Linked DNA regions of Homo sapiens: region 1 is linked to region 2. Evidence: fine-mapped expression QTL. A gene starts in region 2. The other region holds a variant in brackets. All regions are shown on one strand. Distances are between the middles of the regions. Region 1 has its middle 20 kb from the start of GALNTL5. Region 2 holds the start of GALNT11 (polypeptide N-acetylgalactosaminyltransferase 11).

Region 1 (8,338 bases), 89 kb before region 2:
GGCATTAGCCTGGATAAAAGCCAGCTCTGAGGTCATATTTATTATATGATTGTGTAATAAAAGCTCTTTACTGGTGAATTGGCCGCTGGCAGCATTTTCCTGAGAATTCGAGGGAATCAAGTGTACAGAATAACAAGAAAAACAGCGCCTTAGGAAGCGTCCCAAAGGAATGGAGGGAGCACCCGCCATAGGTGCCAGGGACACCCGTGGGTCGCGCCTGTTTGCCTGCACTCTCAACTCCCTTCCTCTAGCTGCTGGGTGTTACTTACTCTGCCAACAATTTGTTACATTGTGTTTTTTAAAACACTGTTCAGGCCGGGTGCGGTGGCTCACGCCTGTAATCCCAGCACTTTGGGAGGCAGAGACGGGCGGATCACAAGGTCAAGAGATCGAGACCATCCTGGCTAACATGGTGAAACCCCGTCTCTACTAAAAATATAAAAATTAGCCGGGCGTGGTGGCGGGCGCCTGTAATCCCAGCTACTCGGGAGGCTGAGGCAGGAGAATGGCGTGAACCCGGGAGGCGGAGGTTCCACTGAGCCAAGATCGCGCCACTGCACTCCAGCCTGGCGACAGAGCGAGACTCCGTCTCAAACAAAACAAAACAAGAAAACACAACACGGTTCAGATTGTCACTGCGCCCTGTGATGTGTCCTCTTTGCCGTAAGGAGTTGTTGTGTAGGTTTGGGAACAAGGGGTAGGGGCATCGCCTCTCCTGCCAGAGGGCGGTAGGACTGTCCGATGACACCTGGTTTCCATAGCACTCCCGACAAGCCCTAGGAGGCTGTTCTCCTTACACATAATTATTCTAGATCTCCCTCTTGTGGACCATCTATGAAATAAAAGACACCAGTCTTTTTTTTTTTTTTTAACAGAGGCTTGCTCTGTTGCCCAGGCTGGAGTGCAGTGGTGTGATCTCGGCTCACTGCAGCCTCCGCTTCCTGGGTTCAAGTGATTCTCCGGCCTCAGCCTCCTGAGTAGCTGGGATTACAGGCGCCCACTACCACACCCAGCTGATTTTTGTATTTTTAGTAGAGACAGGGTTTCACCATGTTGGTCAGGCTGGTCTCAAACTCCTGACTCCACCTGCCTCGGCCTCCCAAAGTGCTGGGATTACAGGTGTGAACCACGGCCCCCCCGCCCCCCCGCCAAAACCAATCATATTTAATAGATACAATGAAGAATGTTATAGGTTATAAGGAATTAATTTCTGTGAGTACTATTTCAACATGTAAGACCATTAGTTTTTTTGTTATGAAATATTACAGACTTTTTAAATGTATATAGAGAATAATATAAAAATACCCATGCACCCACAAACCAGCTTTATCAGATCTTAACATTTTGCCCCACATTTACTTCAGATCCTTTAAAAAGGTAAAATAGATACAGTTGAGGGTCCCTAAATATATCCTCTCCCTAAAGTAATCATGGTTCTGAATTTATCTGTATTACTCCCATACATATGTTTATACTTCTCTACATGTATGTGTGCCAATACAATGCACACTGCTGTTTTATATGTTTGAAATTTTATAAGAAGTTACTGTCACACTGCATGTATTATTCTGCAATCTGTTTTTCTCCCACAATATTATACTTTTGAAGTTTTTCCTTGTGTTTCTGTTTCATTCATTTTCCTCTTCTGTATGCTATTGGTTGTATAAATATCACAACATATTTACCAGTTCTCTTATTCTGGGACATTTAGGTTATTTCCATTTTTCCTCATAACAAACAATGCTGTGGTGAACACACTTGGCCTTGCCTCCTTGTCTGTATATGGGAACTTTTCTAGAATATCCTAAAAGGGGAGTGCTGGCTCATTATACTGGGCTTCTTCAGCTTTACTGCTCATAGAGGATGGTACTACGTTACCTTCCGACCGTCAGCAGAGCTCTTTCCTTTCCTGTCATCTGTCCTCCCAGTGGGCAGCCAGGTGGAAGGAGCAGTAGCCACCATTAATCGAGCCTTCACCATGTGCCAAGCACCAGGTTACACGAATTGCCTGAATTTTCTTGTTTTAAAATGACAACAATCTTATGGGGGCAGCATTAGCAAGCCTGGTTTACAGGAAATCAGAGAAGTCCCGGACGCTGCCCAAGGCCACACAGATAATGAACTGCAGAGCGGAAGTGAAACTGATGCAGCCTCACCTGTCTGATCCCGAGCTGCTATTTGACCACTGGGCTATAAAGATGGTGAAAGACTTACCTGTAGAATTCTGGGATGGCGGAGGACACATCTTCCTAGTGAAGTCTCTAAGCCAGTTTGGTGAGAGCTGAGAACGAAGATCAGAAGAAAGAGGCTGGGTGCGGTGGCTCATGCCTGTAATCCCGGCACTTTGGGAGGCTGAGGCAGGCAGATCACCTGAGGTCAGGAGTTCGAGACCAGCCTGGCCAACATGGCAAAACTCTGTCTCTACTAAAAATACAAAAATTAGCTGGGCATGGTGGCACATGCCTGTAATCCCGCGACTTGGGATGCTGAGGCATGAGAATCACTTGAACCCAGGATGCAGAGGTTGCAGTGAGCGAAGATCGCACCACAGCACTCCAGCCTGGGCAACAGAGTAAAACTCCATCTCAAAATAAATAAGTAGATAAAAATAGTTCGAAGAAAGAAGGAATAAGCCATTTAAATGTTTTAATTATGAAAGTCATTATTATACGTTCAAAAGAGTATATTTAATGTTAATGTATAAATAAGGAACAATAATAAAATGAACAGATGGCAAGAAAGGAGTGAGAGAAATGGAAATTAAAGGTATCTAGATACCTAAGAAAAATAGACTTCAGTGTGAGAAAATAGCAGTGGAGGATCTGACAGCATGCATCCGTTTTCCTTGCAATTACTCAGGCTCAGCGAGTGTTTTTCGACAGTGCAGGAGTCTAAAGCTGCTTTGCCGTGTGCTCAGAACAGCTGACCTAAATCTGGCAGGACAGAGGAGTGGGGACCATCACATCAATGAGAAAAGGTGGAGTGTGCACCTGCCTGGAGACAAAGCAGAAATGGAAATAAGGGCCAGGTGGAAGACAAGAAGAGGGAAAAGGAAGTGTATTCTCCAGCTGGTCTCTCTGCTCAGCCCTGCAGGAGCTGGGAATTCCTCCTGAGCTCCCTGGGGAGCTGTCTGTTTTGCCCTGGTTTGACCAGAGCCTGACCTGAGCACTTTGCTTTTATTTCTCCCTGTTGTGTGTGTGTGTGTGTGTGTGTGTGTGTGTGTGTGTGTGTGTGTGTTTGTTTGTTTTTGAGATGGAGTCTCGCTCTGTCGCCCAGGCTGGAGTTCAGTGACATGATCTCGGCTCACTGCAACTTCTGCTTCCCGGGTTCAAGCAATTCTCGTGCCTCAGCCTCCCAAGTAGCTGGATTACAGGCATGTGCCACCACGTCCAGCTAATTTTTGTATTTTTAGTAGAGATGGGGTTTTGCCATGTTGACCAGGCTGGTCTCGAACTCCTGACCTCAAGTGATCCACCCGCCTCAGCCTCCCAAAATGCTGGGATTACAGGCATGAGCTACCGGCCCCAGCCTCTCTCCTTTTATTTTTAAGGA[A/G]CTAAGTAATGCAAAACTCAACGGGCCTAGTATGCCATCTGGTAGTGAACGTCTAGTTGAATTAAAGATGAAAAGTGCTAGGGTGTTTGTATTGTTTCGACTAAGACACAGAGGTATAAGTTGTATTTTAGAGTTGTTCATGTTTACTTTACTTGAAAACGAAATGACTTCCAAAATAGAGGAGTCAAAACAAACCAGAAGTGAAAGTTAGCAAGTATTACAGGAAGTGGAAAGGAAACGAATGTGTTGCTATGGAAGTGAAACTGCTTTTTAAACAGCGCATCAAGAGCAGAGTGGGTAAAGCAGGTAGTTTTCTTGGCATGAGTAAAGGATATAGGTCATCTTATGTGCTTTTATACAATAAAAGTATAACTGATACCTTGATCTTAACTTTGTTAAACTGTGAAAAGAGAAAGAACTTGGTGATGTTAAGATACCTCGATACCTTTAGCTTCATCAAAAATGGGTCACGTGCCTTAACCTTGACTTACTCATTTTTCCTACCTTCACGCCTATCATTTCCCCACTTAGAATGCCTTTATGCTACTCAGATTTCCCATCAGAATTTCAACCATCCTATTAAGGACTTTGAAAACCTGACTTAATTGTTTTTTGTTTTTTGGGGTTTTTTTTGAGACAGTCTCACTCTGTCACCCAGGCTGGAGGGCAGTGGTGTGATCTCAGCTCACTGCAACTTCTGCTTCCCAGGTTCAAGTGATTCTCCTGCCTCAGCCTCCTAAGTAACTGGAACTACAGACATGTGCCACCAAGCTCAGCTTATTTTTGTATTTTTAGTAGAGACGGGGTTTCGCCATGTTGGCTAGGCTGGTCTCGAACTCCTGACCTCAAGTGGTCCGCCCGCCTCAGCCTCGCAAAGTGCTGGGATTATAGGCATGAGCCACTGCGCCTGGCCCTGATTTAAATTTTTTATGGAAGTATAAAAATCCATGAAATGCTAAGTCAAACTTGCTCAACTAGGAATTAAGATACAACACAAAACCAAGGACAGACACACAGACCAGGGGAACAGGAGAGGGAGCCCAGAGAGAGACTATATTACATGGGAATCATTACATGATAAAGACAGCCCAGGAATCAGTGGGGAAAGGACGAGTTACTTGTGGATATTTAGAAGTCATTTCAGTGTCTGCAGGGGTAAAAAACCAACATCACATACATAGGACTATTCAAAATGAAGCCAATACCGAATATGAACAGTAAAATGATAAGTTAACAGAATATGGTGATGACACACTTCCTTGCGATCCAAGGGTGGGGAAGGACCTCTTAAAATTTCAAAACACAAGCTGTAAGCAAAAAAAAAAAGGAAGATGATTTTTAGTACATCAGAATGAAAAATTTCTGGTCAACTAGTGGCCCACTGACAAAGTTAATTCAGGCTTTTATTCAACATGCTTGGCTTTATGGCACTTCCCAGATGTTGCATTTCTTACAAATAGAAGGTTTGTGGCAGCCCTGCTTTGAGCAAGTCTGTTGGTGTCATTTTTCCAACAGCACATGCTCAGTTTATGTCTCTGTGTCATATTTTGGTAATTCTTGCAGTATCTAAAACTTTTTCATTATTATATCATTGTGATGATCTGTGATCAGTGGTCTTTGATGTTACTACTGTAGTTGTTTTGGGGGTCCCATATAAGACAGTGAACTTAATTGATAAATGTTGTATGTGTTCTAATTGGTCCACCAGCTGGCCATTCCTCTGTCTGTCTCCCTCATCTTGTGCATCCCTGTTCCCTGGGGATTGAAATTAGGACAATTAATAACCCTGCAATGGCCTCTAAGTGTTCAAGTGAAAAGGAGAGTCACAGGCCTCTGACTTTAAATCAAAAGGTAGAAGTAATTAAGCTAAGTGAGGAAGGCATGTCGAAAGCTGAGATAGGCCCCAAGCTAGGCATCTTGTGCCAAACAGTTAACCAAATTGTGAGTGCAAAGAAAATGTTCTTGGCCAGGCACGGTGGCTCACGCCTGTAATCCCAGCATTTTGGGAGGCTGAGGCGGGCGGCTTACTTGAGGTCAGGAGTTCAAGACCAGCCTGGCCAACATGATGAAACCCCATCTCTACTAAAAATACAAAAATTAGCCGGGCGTGGTGGTGTGCATGGTGTGCACCTGTAATCCCAGCTACTTGGGAGGCTGAGGCAGAAGAATCACTTGAACCTGGCAGGTGGAGGCCGCAGTGAACTAAGATCATGCCACTGCACTACAGCCTGGGTAACAGAGCAAGACTCCATCTCAAAAAAAAAGTACTTAAAGGAAATTAAAACTGCTACTCCAGGGAACACACAAATGATAAGAAAGTGAGACTGCCTTATTGCTGATACAGAGAAAGTTTGAGTGGTCTGGATAGAAGATCAAAGCAGCCACAGCATTCTCTTAGGCCAAAGCCGAATCCAGAGAAAGGTCCTAACTCTCTTCCACTCTGAAGGCTGAGAGAGGTGAGGAAGCTGCAGAAGGAAGTTTGAAGCTTTTGAACCTCATTGGTTCATGAGATTTAAAGAGCGAAGCCAGCTCCATAAAAAAGTGTAAGATGAAGCAACAAGTGTTGATGGAGAAGCTGCAACAAGTTTTCCAGAAGATCTAGTTAATTAAGATCATTGATGAAGACAGGAGCACTAAACAACAAATTTTCAATGTAGACTAAACAGTCTTCTATTGGAAGAAGATGCCATCTAAGACTTTTCATAGCTAGAGAGAAGACATCAATGTCTGGCTTCAAAGCTTCAAAGGATAGGCTGACTCTCTTGCTAGGGGCTGATGCAGCTGGTGTCTTTAAGCTGAAGCCAGTGCTCACTTGCCATTCTGAAAATCTTAGCGTCCTTAAGAATTATGCTGAATCTATTCTGCCTGTGCTCTAGAAATGGAACAACAAAGCCTGAATGACTACACAACTGCTTACAGCATGGTTTACTGAATATTTTAAGCCCGCCGTTGAGACCTACTGCTCAGAAGAAAAGATTCCTTTCAAAATATTACTGCTCATTGACAATGCACTTGGTCACCTATAAGCTCTGAGGGAGATGTGCTAGGAGATAAATGTCGTGTCCCTGCCTGCTAACACGATCACCATTCTCTGCCCATGGATCAAGGACTAATTTCTACTTTCAAGTCTTATTATTTAAGAAATAGATTTAATAAGGCTATAACTGCCATAGATAGTGATTCCTCTGATGGATCTGGGCAAGGAAAATTGAAAACGTCTGGAAAGGATTCACCATTCTAAATGCCATTAGAAACATTCGTGATTCATGGGAGGAGATCAAAATAATAACATTAAGAGGAGTTTGGAAGAAGTTGATTCCAGTCTTCATGGATGACCTTGAGGGGTTGAAGACTTTAGTGGAGGAAGTCACTGCAGATGTGGTGGAAATGCAAGAGAAATAGAAGATGGGACTGAACTGCAATTTCATGATCAAACTTGAAAGGATGAGGAGTTGCTTCTTTTGGATGAGCAAAGAACGTGGTTTCTTGACATGGAAACTACTCTTGATGAAGAAGCTATGAACACTGTTAAAACGACAACAAAGCATTTAGAATATTACATAAGCTTAGCTGACAAAGCAGTGGCAAGGTCTGAAAGGACTGACTCCAATTTTCAAAGAAGTTCTACTCTGGGTAAAATTCTATCAAACAGCATCACATGCTACAGAAAAATCTTTTTGTGAAAGGAAGAGTCAGGGGAAGGGCAGGGGTAGAAAAAAATTAAAAAAGAAGAGTCGATGGATACAGCAAACTTCATTACTGTCTTATTTTAAGAAATTCCACAGCCACCCCAACCTTCAGGAACCACCACCCTGATCAGTCAGCAGCCACCAACATCGAGGCAAAACCCTCCACCAAAGGAAGATTACAACTCCATGAAGGCTCAGATAATTGTTACCATTGTTTAGCAATAAAGTATTTTTAATTAATACAGTACATTTTATACATAATGCTATTGCACACTAAATGGACTACAGTATAGAAACATAACTTTTATATGCACTGGGAAACCACAAAAATGTGTGACTCACTTTATTGCAATATTTGCCTTATTGCAGTAATCTGGACTGAACCCACAACATCTCTGAGGTATCCCTGTAGACAGAGGACAGAATGGGAGAACACGCTTGCAATATCCAAAGCTGACAAGGGACTAGTGCCTAGAAAATTCAAGGAACTCATGCAAATCAAGAGGAAAAAGACAGAAAGTGGAAAAAGGGATAAGATGTAGATAGGCAATTCATAGAAGAAGACACCCCAAAGAGCACCAAACAAGAAGAGAAGCTTAGCTTCATCCGAAATCAGAGAAGCGCAGATGAAAACCATGTTCCTTTGCATCCGTTCATGGCTGGGTCCCTGCCAGAGCAGCCTGGACCAAGTACTGGAGCTGGACTCAGGACAGCCCATGGATGAGGCTGCCAGCAACAGAGGAGTTGTCTTGTCTAGCTCAGAAAGATTTTTTTATTGGGAATCTGTTTGGCAAATTGAAAATTAGATTAGTGAGTTAGAAGGGAAGAAAGATAAGAGGGAGAGCCAGAGCAAGAGGGCCCGGGAGGGTGCAGGGCGGAGTGGGGGGCGCTGGGCGTGGGCACACGCTGGAGCATCCAGTGGGGGCTGTGGGAGGTGAAAGCCAGGGCCCCAGAGAGGAGACTCAAGAGATGCTGGGAGAGCGGCCACCAGTCCTGGGCCACTTCAGTGTTTCTCAGCTCTGCTCTTGGATTTTTAATATAATTTTGTTACTGGGGGAGGGTGTCCAGGTTCTTGGCATTTTGAACAAAGAATTGGA
Region 2 (8,338 bases):
GAGGTTGCAGTGAGCCGAGACCAAGACCAAGATCACACCACTGCACTCCAGCCTGGGTGACAGAGACTGTCTCAAAAAACAAACAAACAAAAAGCAAAATAGAAATCTTGTAGCTGAAAAAATAAAAGAGAATTATAGTAGTATAAATATGGAGTATCTTCTTAAAGTAACAGTTTTTTTCTAGTTGAAATTTGAGAATATATATATGTTATATATAATTATTATATGTAATATATAAATGATATATATGTAACATTAAAAAGTATATTTTTTTTCTGGTAAGCATAAAGAATGGATGCTGTAAATATCAGCTTTCCCAAAAGCAAAAGACAGGAGTGTTCTCTTTTGTTAAAAGCCGTGGGCCTAATATTAAGTCTTAGTTTTGTAATGTAATTTAGTTTAGGTACTAGATAACACAGATAAGTCCTAGAAATTGTTCAGCATGTCCCTTGGACAGTATCTTCTTAAATATTGCTTCAGTTGACCCTAAAATAGAAAAGAAATCAGAATCAATATCCAAATATTTGGTGTGATTAAAGGGAAATTGATACTTGCCTATAGATGGCAATTTTTTGTTTTTGTGTGGAAATTTAAAAATCTGATTTGTATTTTGAAGCTAGTTGAAAAGTATCTGGTAACCTGCTTAGGGTTTCTTACAAAACAGTTTTTGGTATGATGGAATGCTCAAACAAGTCTGAAATTAAGCCCAGGAGTTCTGTAACTAAAACATCCTTCTAGGAATTTATCCCAAGACACACCTGTATGAAACAACAACTAAGAAGAGCTGACATTTGCTGAGCTTTTACTACGTTTCATACTCTGTTATAAGTAGTCTGCATGGATTATCTCCTTTCATTCATACAACAACTTTATGAGTTCTACTGCTATCCTCATTTCATAGATGAGAAAACGATGGTTAGAATGTGCCCAGGTTAACGTTGCCCTATTTGGCTAATAAAAATACAGGATGCCTGGTTAAACTTGAATTTCAAATAGACAATAACATTTTACTGTACATATGGCTACATTCTGAATGTGTCTTCCATAATTCATGTTGAAACAACTGACAAAGCAACAGCACTACAGTTTGAATACCTTTTATCCCCACCAAAATTCATGTTGAGGCTTGGACCCCAGGGTAACAGTGTTGAGACAGAGTAGGACCTTTAAGAGGCATTTGAGCCATGAGGGACCAGCCCCCCATGAAAAGATTAACGCAGTCACTGAGAGTTCCCAGTCTCTTGAGACTGGATTAGGTACCTTGAGAGCGGGTTGTTAATAAGTAACATTGCCCCTTTAGCCAGTGCGCGCTTCCTCTTCCGATTCTCTGCCACGTTATGATGTAGCACAAAGCCCTCACCAGCAGCCTACCAGATACGGCTGCTGGATCTTGTACTTCCCAGCCTCCAGGAGAGTGGGAAAACAAATTTGTTTTTAAACTACCTAGTCTCAGGTATTTTATTATGGCAGCACAGATGAAGACAAGCCTCTCACATATTGCACAGGATATACTTAAACCACAAAATTATTCTTAATCTGGAATTCAAATTTCAGGCCATCCTGTATTTCATCTGGCAACTGTATCCAAGGACAAACAATAACACGGCCCTTACATGATCCTAATCAGCGTGGCCTCAAAGATTGTGTTTAACCAGAATGATACGCTGAAAAGAGCATTTTAGTGTCATTCTGTATGATAGTGAAAAATTGGAGCTAACCCAAATCCTCAATTACGAGAATAATGGTTAAGTAATTATTGCACATTAATCAGGTAGAATAGTATTTAAAGTAATAAACAGATGCATCTCATACTCATCAGGTTGGCAAATATTTAAATATCTGATACTATCAAGGGTCAGGAGAAGATGAAACAATGGAAATTTACATGCCCTGATTAATCCTAGAGCATGATTTCAAATGTTAATTTGTGTATAAATCACCTGGAAATCTTGGTAAAAATGCAGATTTTAATTAAGTAGGTGGAGCACAAGACTCCCCATTTCTAACACACTCCAGGTGACGTTGGTGTCGCTTGTTGCTGGACCACCATTTGAGTAGTGAGGCCCTAAAGGTCTGGTCTTCAAACTCTTTTGCTTGAGTATATACTAAAATAATAAGGTTTAAATACAAGAACTTAGTATCCCCTTATACATATTTAAGGTGATATTTAACATTTTTCATTACTAGTTTAGGTAGTTGGAAGGATTACTTTCTGGAAACATATTTATGTATTTAAATAAACTTGTAATACACTTTTAAATATACCTAGTAGACTTTGCCCTAGTTTGCCTGCCACTGCTGTGAATAGTTTCTGAGGGGGATCCCAGCAGGATTGATCCCCAATGACGCTTATTTGATATTATACTATGTATATTTTACATGAGCTGCAACCATTGAAGGAAACTGGGCAAAGATACCTGTGTGCTGTCTGCACTGCCCTTGCAAGAGAAACCAGTACCTGAAATATCTGTCAATCTCCAATCAAGACACAAGCATGGTAGAAGGAGTCAAAAGCATTCAACTTGGCACCCAGCAGCAGTTCTCTTTGGCTGAGGGAAGTGGCCACAAGACTCAGCTGGGGGCCATCAGCGGCCTACACACCCAACAACTGGAGAAATGAGTCCTCAGTCCTTAAGGGGAAACCTGGGTGGTACAACATGGCATCCCCTACACCCTGACAACCCCATGGGGTATCTGTGGAAGAGGGGCTGGGGAATGTGGTTAGCTCAGTTCAGCTCAAGAAGGCCACTACTTTGGTTCAGGTGGTGCTCTTTAATTTATAGTAGCTGTAGAAGTTCCTCCATTGCTACGCGTGTACCCCATCAGACTTTAATTGTGAAGCAATGAGTTCTTTAAAAAAGTTCAAAAATATTCTTAACCAAGTGGGATTTATTTCAGAAATGCAAAGAAGATTAGTATTAAGATATTCTTCAATATAACTTGGCATTATTGGCCAAAGATGAATGCCCACACCATTTTTCTTAAAAATTGCCAATTCCCCTTTTATGGTATTTGTATACATTGCACTATTATCACCAAGGTATGAGTGTTTTTTTCACCACTTCTCTCTTTACACCTTAATCTACATTTTCTTCTATCACAAGTGGCGTTTAACTTCTTTTAATATGTTTAAGGGCATTTGTCTTTTTTTTTTTTTTTCACTTATGGGGTCTCGCTGTATTGCCCAGGCTGGAGGGCAGTGGCTATTCACAGGCGCGATCCCGCTACCGATCAGCACAGGAGTTTTGCCCTGCCCGGTTTCCGAGCTGGGCCAGTTCCCCACTCCTTGGGGAACCTGGTGGTCCCTGCTCCCGGGAGGTCACCACACCGATGCGGAACACAGATGCGTGTCGCCGCGCAATGGGCACAGCGCATACAGCGCAGAGCTCCCGGGCTCAAGCGCTGCTCCCGCCTCAGCCTCCGGAGTAGCCGGGGCCACAGGCAGGGCATTTGTCATTAATGGGGTCTTTTGAGACCGCGGGTGACAGACAACAGGAGCCAGGCCACGCGCGGCGCCTCTGCGCGAACGCTAGGGAGGACTCAGCGCGCGGCGGCCGGTGACGTCAGGGCAGCGAGAGGTTTCGTCACCGCGGCGCGGGGGCGGGGCCGCCTGTCACGCGGCGCCGGCGGACGCGCGGCGCTGGGCGGAGGCAGCGGCTCGGGGACTGGGCGAGGGCCCTGGGCCTGAGGAGGCGCGGCCGCCACTGCGCCCAGCGCCTGCGCGACGCCTGGCTGCTGGGCCCCGGGGCAGTTCAGCCCGCGCCGCTCCTGCGGGTCGGACTGGGGCTGTGGCGGGAGAGAAGATGCCGCAGCCCGAGTCCCAGAAGGCGGCGATCCTGGGCTGCGGGCAAGGCGGTGAGTACCCTCTAGGCGGCGGCCTCCCGGCGTCCCTCAGCACCTCGAGAGCTGCGGCGGCGGCGGCGCGCGGGGCCTGGGCAGGCTGGGGGCGGCGGCGGGGCAGCGCCTGGCTCCCCGCGGGTCCTGGGCTCCCGCACGCCCCCTGGGCGAGGCTCGTGTCTCCGGGAGACGCCGCTGCCCCCGCGCCTCCCCCAGCGTCTCCTGAGGCTTGTTCGCGGGCGTGGGGGCGAGGACCAGGGCGCTGGCCTCGTTTTCGCGTATTTAGGACGGAGGCACACCTGATCCTGCAGCCTCCCCCAGCATTTCCTAAAATGAAGTCCAGATCAGTATTGTCCACTTTTTAAAATTAAAAGTGCCCAGAAATAGAATAGTTCACACATACACAAAACTAGGGAGAATAGTGTGGAAGGAAATTTAATCTCGGGACCCCAAATCACTAAGCCAAAGTCAAGCTGGGAGCTGCGTCAGGCAAACCTGCCCCTAAGTTTTGTTCCTAAGACAGCTGCAAAGATAAAAAGCCACACAGCTCCCTCACCCTTTGGCCAGGAGGAAATTCGCTGTGGACCTCCACATCTTTACCCTGAAACAGTTGTGTGGAATTGCACCCTGGCAGTGTAAATTGACAGCTTGTCTTCGCAGGTGAGGAACAGGGACAGAACTCAAGTCATCCTTCTGCTCACCTGAGACAGATGCATGTCTGACGGCTTCCTCTGCCCTGTATTTATGTAAAAATGCAGATTCACTGAGCCAGACTAAGGCACAAGTGGCTATTCCTCTGCCTGCCCCATGGCGTAAATTGTGTGTTCAGTAAAAGGCAGAGCAGAGGCTCAAAAGAATGTAGCCGTTTGTCTCTCATCTTACCCATGACCTGGAAGCCGCCACTTTGAGTTGTCCCACCTTTCCTGCCCGAACTAGTCTATACCTGTATTTGATTGAAGACTCATGTTCCCCTACAATGTATAAAACTAGGCTGTGCCCCCACCACCTTGGGTACATGCTCTCAGGATCTCTTGAGGGCAGTGTCATGGGCCATAGACACTCATTTCGCTCAGAATAAATCTCTTTAAAAATTTTTTTATTAGCCGGGTGCGGTGGCTCACGCCTGTAATCCCAGCACTTTGGAAGGCCAAGGCGAGCGGATCACGAGGTCAGGAGATCAAGACCATCCTGGCTAACACGGTGAAATCCCGTCTCTACTAAAAATACAAAAAATAAGCCGGGCGTGGTGGCAGGCGCCTGTAATCCCAGCTACTTGGGAGGCTGAGGCAGGAGAATGGCGTGAATCGAGGAGGCAGAGCTTGCAGTGAGCCGAGATCACGCCACTGCACTCCATCCTGGGTGACAGAGCGAGACTCCATCTCAAAAAAATTTATTTTTAATTTTTGTGGGTACATAGTAGGCATATGTATTTATAGGTACATGAGATATTTGATATGGCATAGAATGCATAATCACATCAGGATAAGCAGGGTATCCATCTTCTCAAGCATTTATCCTTTGTTAGTGCTACAAACAACCTGCAAGGCTCTTGTATTGGTTTGAACCCCGATGACGCACCAACAACCCCCACGACATGAGGCGGTGTGGAGCAACATGCTGTTTTAATAAGCGCCTGGGTGCAGACGGGTTTATGCCTAAATGGCATCAGCCCCAAGTGAGGAATGGGTTTTATAATAGCATCAGCCCCAAGTGAGGAAGGGGTTTTATAGTCCTCTGTAAGCAGGAAGTGTCCCAGTCTGACGTGGCTGCTGCGTAAATGTGTCCGGAATTGGTTCCTTCCAGTGGATTCTTGGTCTCGCTGACTTCAAGAATGAAGCCACGGACTGTCGCGGTGAGTGTTACAGTTCTTAAAGATGGTATGTCGAGAGTTTGTTCCTTCTGATGTTCAGATGTGTCCAGAGTTTCTTCCTTCTGGTGGGTTCGTGGTCTTGCTGACTTCAGGGATGAAGCCGCAGACCTTTGCAGTGAGTGTTACAGCTCTTAAAGGTGGCACGTCTGGAGTTGTTTTTTCCTCCCAGTGGGTTCATGAGCTCACTGACTTCAGGAGTCAACCTGCAGACCTTCGCAGTGAGTGTTACAGGTCTTAAAGGTGGCATGTCGAGAGTTGTTTGTTCCTCGCAGTAGGTTTGTGGTCTCACTGACTTCAGGAGTGAAGCCACAGACCTTCACAGTCAGTGTTACAGCTCATAAAGTTAGTGCAGACCCAAAGAGTGAGCAGCAGCAAGATTTATTGCAAAGAATGAAAGAGCAAAGCTTCCACAGCATGGAAGGGGACCCGAGCAGGTTGCCGCTGCTGGCTCCAGTGGCCTGCTTTTATTCCCTTATTTGGCCCCACCCACATCCTGCTGATTGGTCCATTTTACAGAGAGCTGATTAGTCCATTTTAGAGTGCTGATTGCTCTGTTTTACAGAGTGCTGATTGGTCTGTTTTACAGAGTGCTAATTGGTCGGTTTTTACAGAGTGCTGATTGGTGCGTTTACAAACCTTTAGCTAGACACAGAGCGCTGATTGGTGCATTTACAATCCTTTAGCTAGACAGAAAAGTTCTCCAAGTCTGCTACCCAGTTAGCTAGTCACAGAGCACTGATTGGTGCATTTACAATCCTTTAGCTAGACTGAAAAGTTCTCCAAGTCCCCTACCCGATTAGCTAGACACAGAGCACTGATTGGTGTGTTTACAAACCTTTAGCTAGACACAGAGCCCTGATTGGTGCATTTACAATCCTTTAGACAGAGTAGTTCTCCAAGTCCCCACCCGACCCAGAAGCACAGCCAGCTTCACCTCTCAATCCCCCCCCTCTAAACAGGACACCCCAACTGCTGTTGGGAATTTGGCCAATGACTGCTGTAGCTACTTCCTGCTGGATAGGGGTGAAGAAGGGGCCCTGCAATTGTAGTGTCCTCCAGAGGGGAACTCTTTAGGCCAGTGAAAGGGCCAGCAGGTTGGTCCAGGGGTCCTGGTAGAAGTTTAGTTGAGCTCATTTGGAGTTCCATTTGTAAGACCATCTGTAGCTTGATGGTCTCAATTCTAGAGGAAACAAATTTGAAAAGGAGGTTAAAAATACAGGGCCCGAAGGCAAGTAATAGCAAGATGGCTGCCACAGGACCTAGAAAGGGGAGAAGCCATGTTGTCCAACTCCAGAGGTTGGTGTAAGAGTTTGAAAGGCGTCTGATTTCAGAAGCCTTTTCCTATAAATGTTGGGTGGCATCTCATACTATCCCTGACTGGTTAGTGTAAAAACAACACTCTTCCCCTAAGAAGGTGCAGAGTCCTCCTTTCTCAGCAGTGAGGAGGTCTAGGCCTCGGTGGTTTTGGAGAGTCATTGCTGCCAAAGAGTCTATTTGGAATTGTAGTTACTATCCTTACTGGATAGATTTTGTTATTTCTTGCAAACTCTCTTGAGAAATCCTTTGAGAGTGTGGTAGTAGGATAATGAAGTAGGTAAACTGGCTATTCCAGTTCCTGTAGCAGTGGCCATTTCTAACCCTATAGGTAGGGGTATTAGTTGTATGGCTCTGCACTGACGGACTTGAGCTTTGAGGGGTACTGATAGGGTCTGATTTCCACAAGATTAGAAGTTAGAATAATATATGTTTACACTGTTAACTTTTAGCAAACTTTACTTTTGTTGAAAACCTTGTAAGTTTGGGATTTCAATTATTCTTTGCTATTAATAAGACCTCGTTCAGTCCATATTAACTTAGAATTGATATAGATGGCTCCTTCCTGATTCTGTAAGTACTTTAAGGTTTGGCTGAGTGCAAACAGCTCGCACATTTGAGCAAACCAATTATTAGGCAGTTTTCCTAACTCTGCTTCTACAGTTCCCTTATCATTTACTGAATACCCCTTGTGTCTTTTTTCCTTAATCACCCAGGAGGAACCATCTATGGTCCTGTCCTGAAGGGAGTTCCTCCTAGATCTGGTCGGACCTTTGTATGGTAGTTAGTTAAGATTTAGATCCCCTGTTAGGAAACCTGCTGGGTTAAGGATTTTTGATAGGAAGGCTATGGGTTGTCAGTGGCCTCAGTGCTTTTGGGCTACGCCCTTGTTTACACTGACAACAAGGTGGTATTGGAGTGTTACAGAGTTACAGAGAAGGCCTTCAATTATCAGTTATAGGTTTTAACTTTACTGTGGCTTTTAAAGGAATAGGGTGTAGGGTCCAGCCCCACAGGGTCGGTGGGTTTTTTCCCCGTGTGCGGAGACGAGAGAGTGTAGAAATAAAGACACAAGACAGAGATAAAAGAAAAGACAAGAGGTAGAGGAGTAGAGTCTTCTGTAAACTCCCACGGGGAAAGGGAGACTCCCTTTCCTGGTCTGCTAAGTAGCGGGTGTTTTTCCTTGACACTGATGCTACCGCTAGATCACGGGACGCTGGTGTTACCACTAGACCAAGGAGCCCTCTGGTGGCCCTGTCCGAGCATAACAGAAGCCTCAACTCTTGTCTTCTGGTCACTTCTCACTATGTCCCCTCA

The links. PIP is the estimated chance that this variant, and not a neighbour inherited with it, causes the effect.
Region 1: its variant is fine-mapped to the expression of GALNT11 in neutrophils (BLUEPRINT, PIP 0.95).

Annotation. Positions count from the first base shown.
Region 1 is chr7:151,932,628-151,940,965 of GRCh38, forward strand. No RefSeq gene overlaps it. Among named protein-coding and RNA genes, the nearest start is that of GALNTL5, 20 kb to the right of the region's middle. RefSeq lists enhancers at 677-776, 797-846. The variant A/G (reference allele first, on the strand shown) is at 3,553.
Region 2 is chr7:152,022,030-152,030,367 of GRCh38, forward strand. GALNT11 (polypeptide N-acetylgalactosaminyltransferase 11) reads left to right here and starts at 3,645. Exons shown (of 12, transcript NM_022087.4): 1 at 3,645-3,855. RefSeq lists silencers at 2,335-2,629, 3,480-4,179.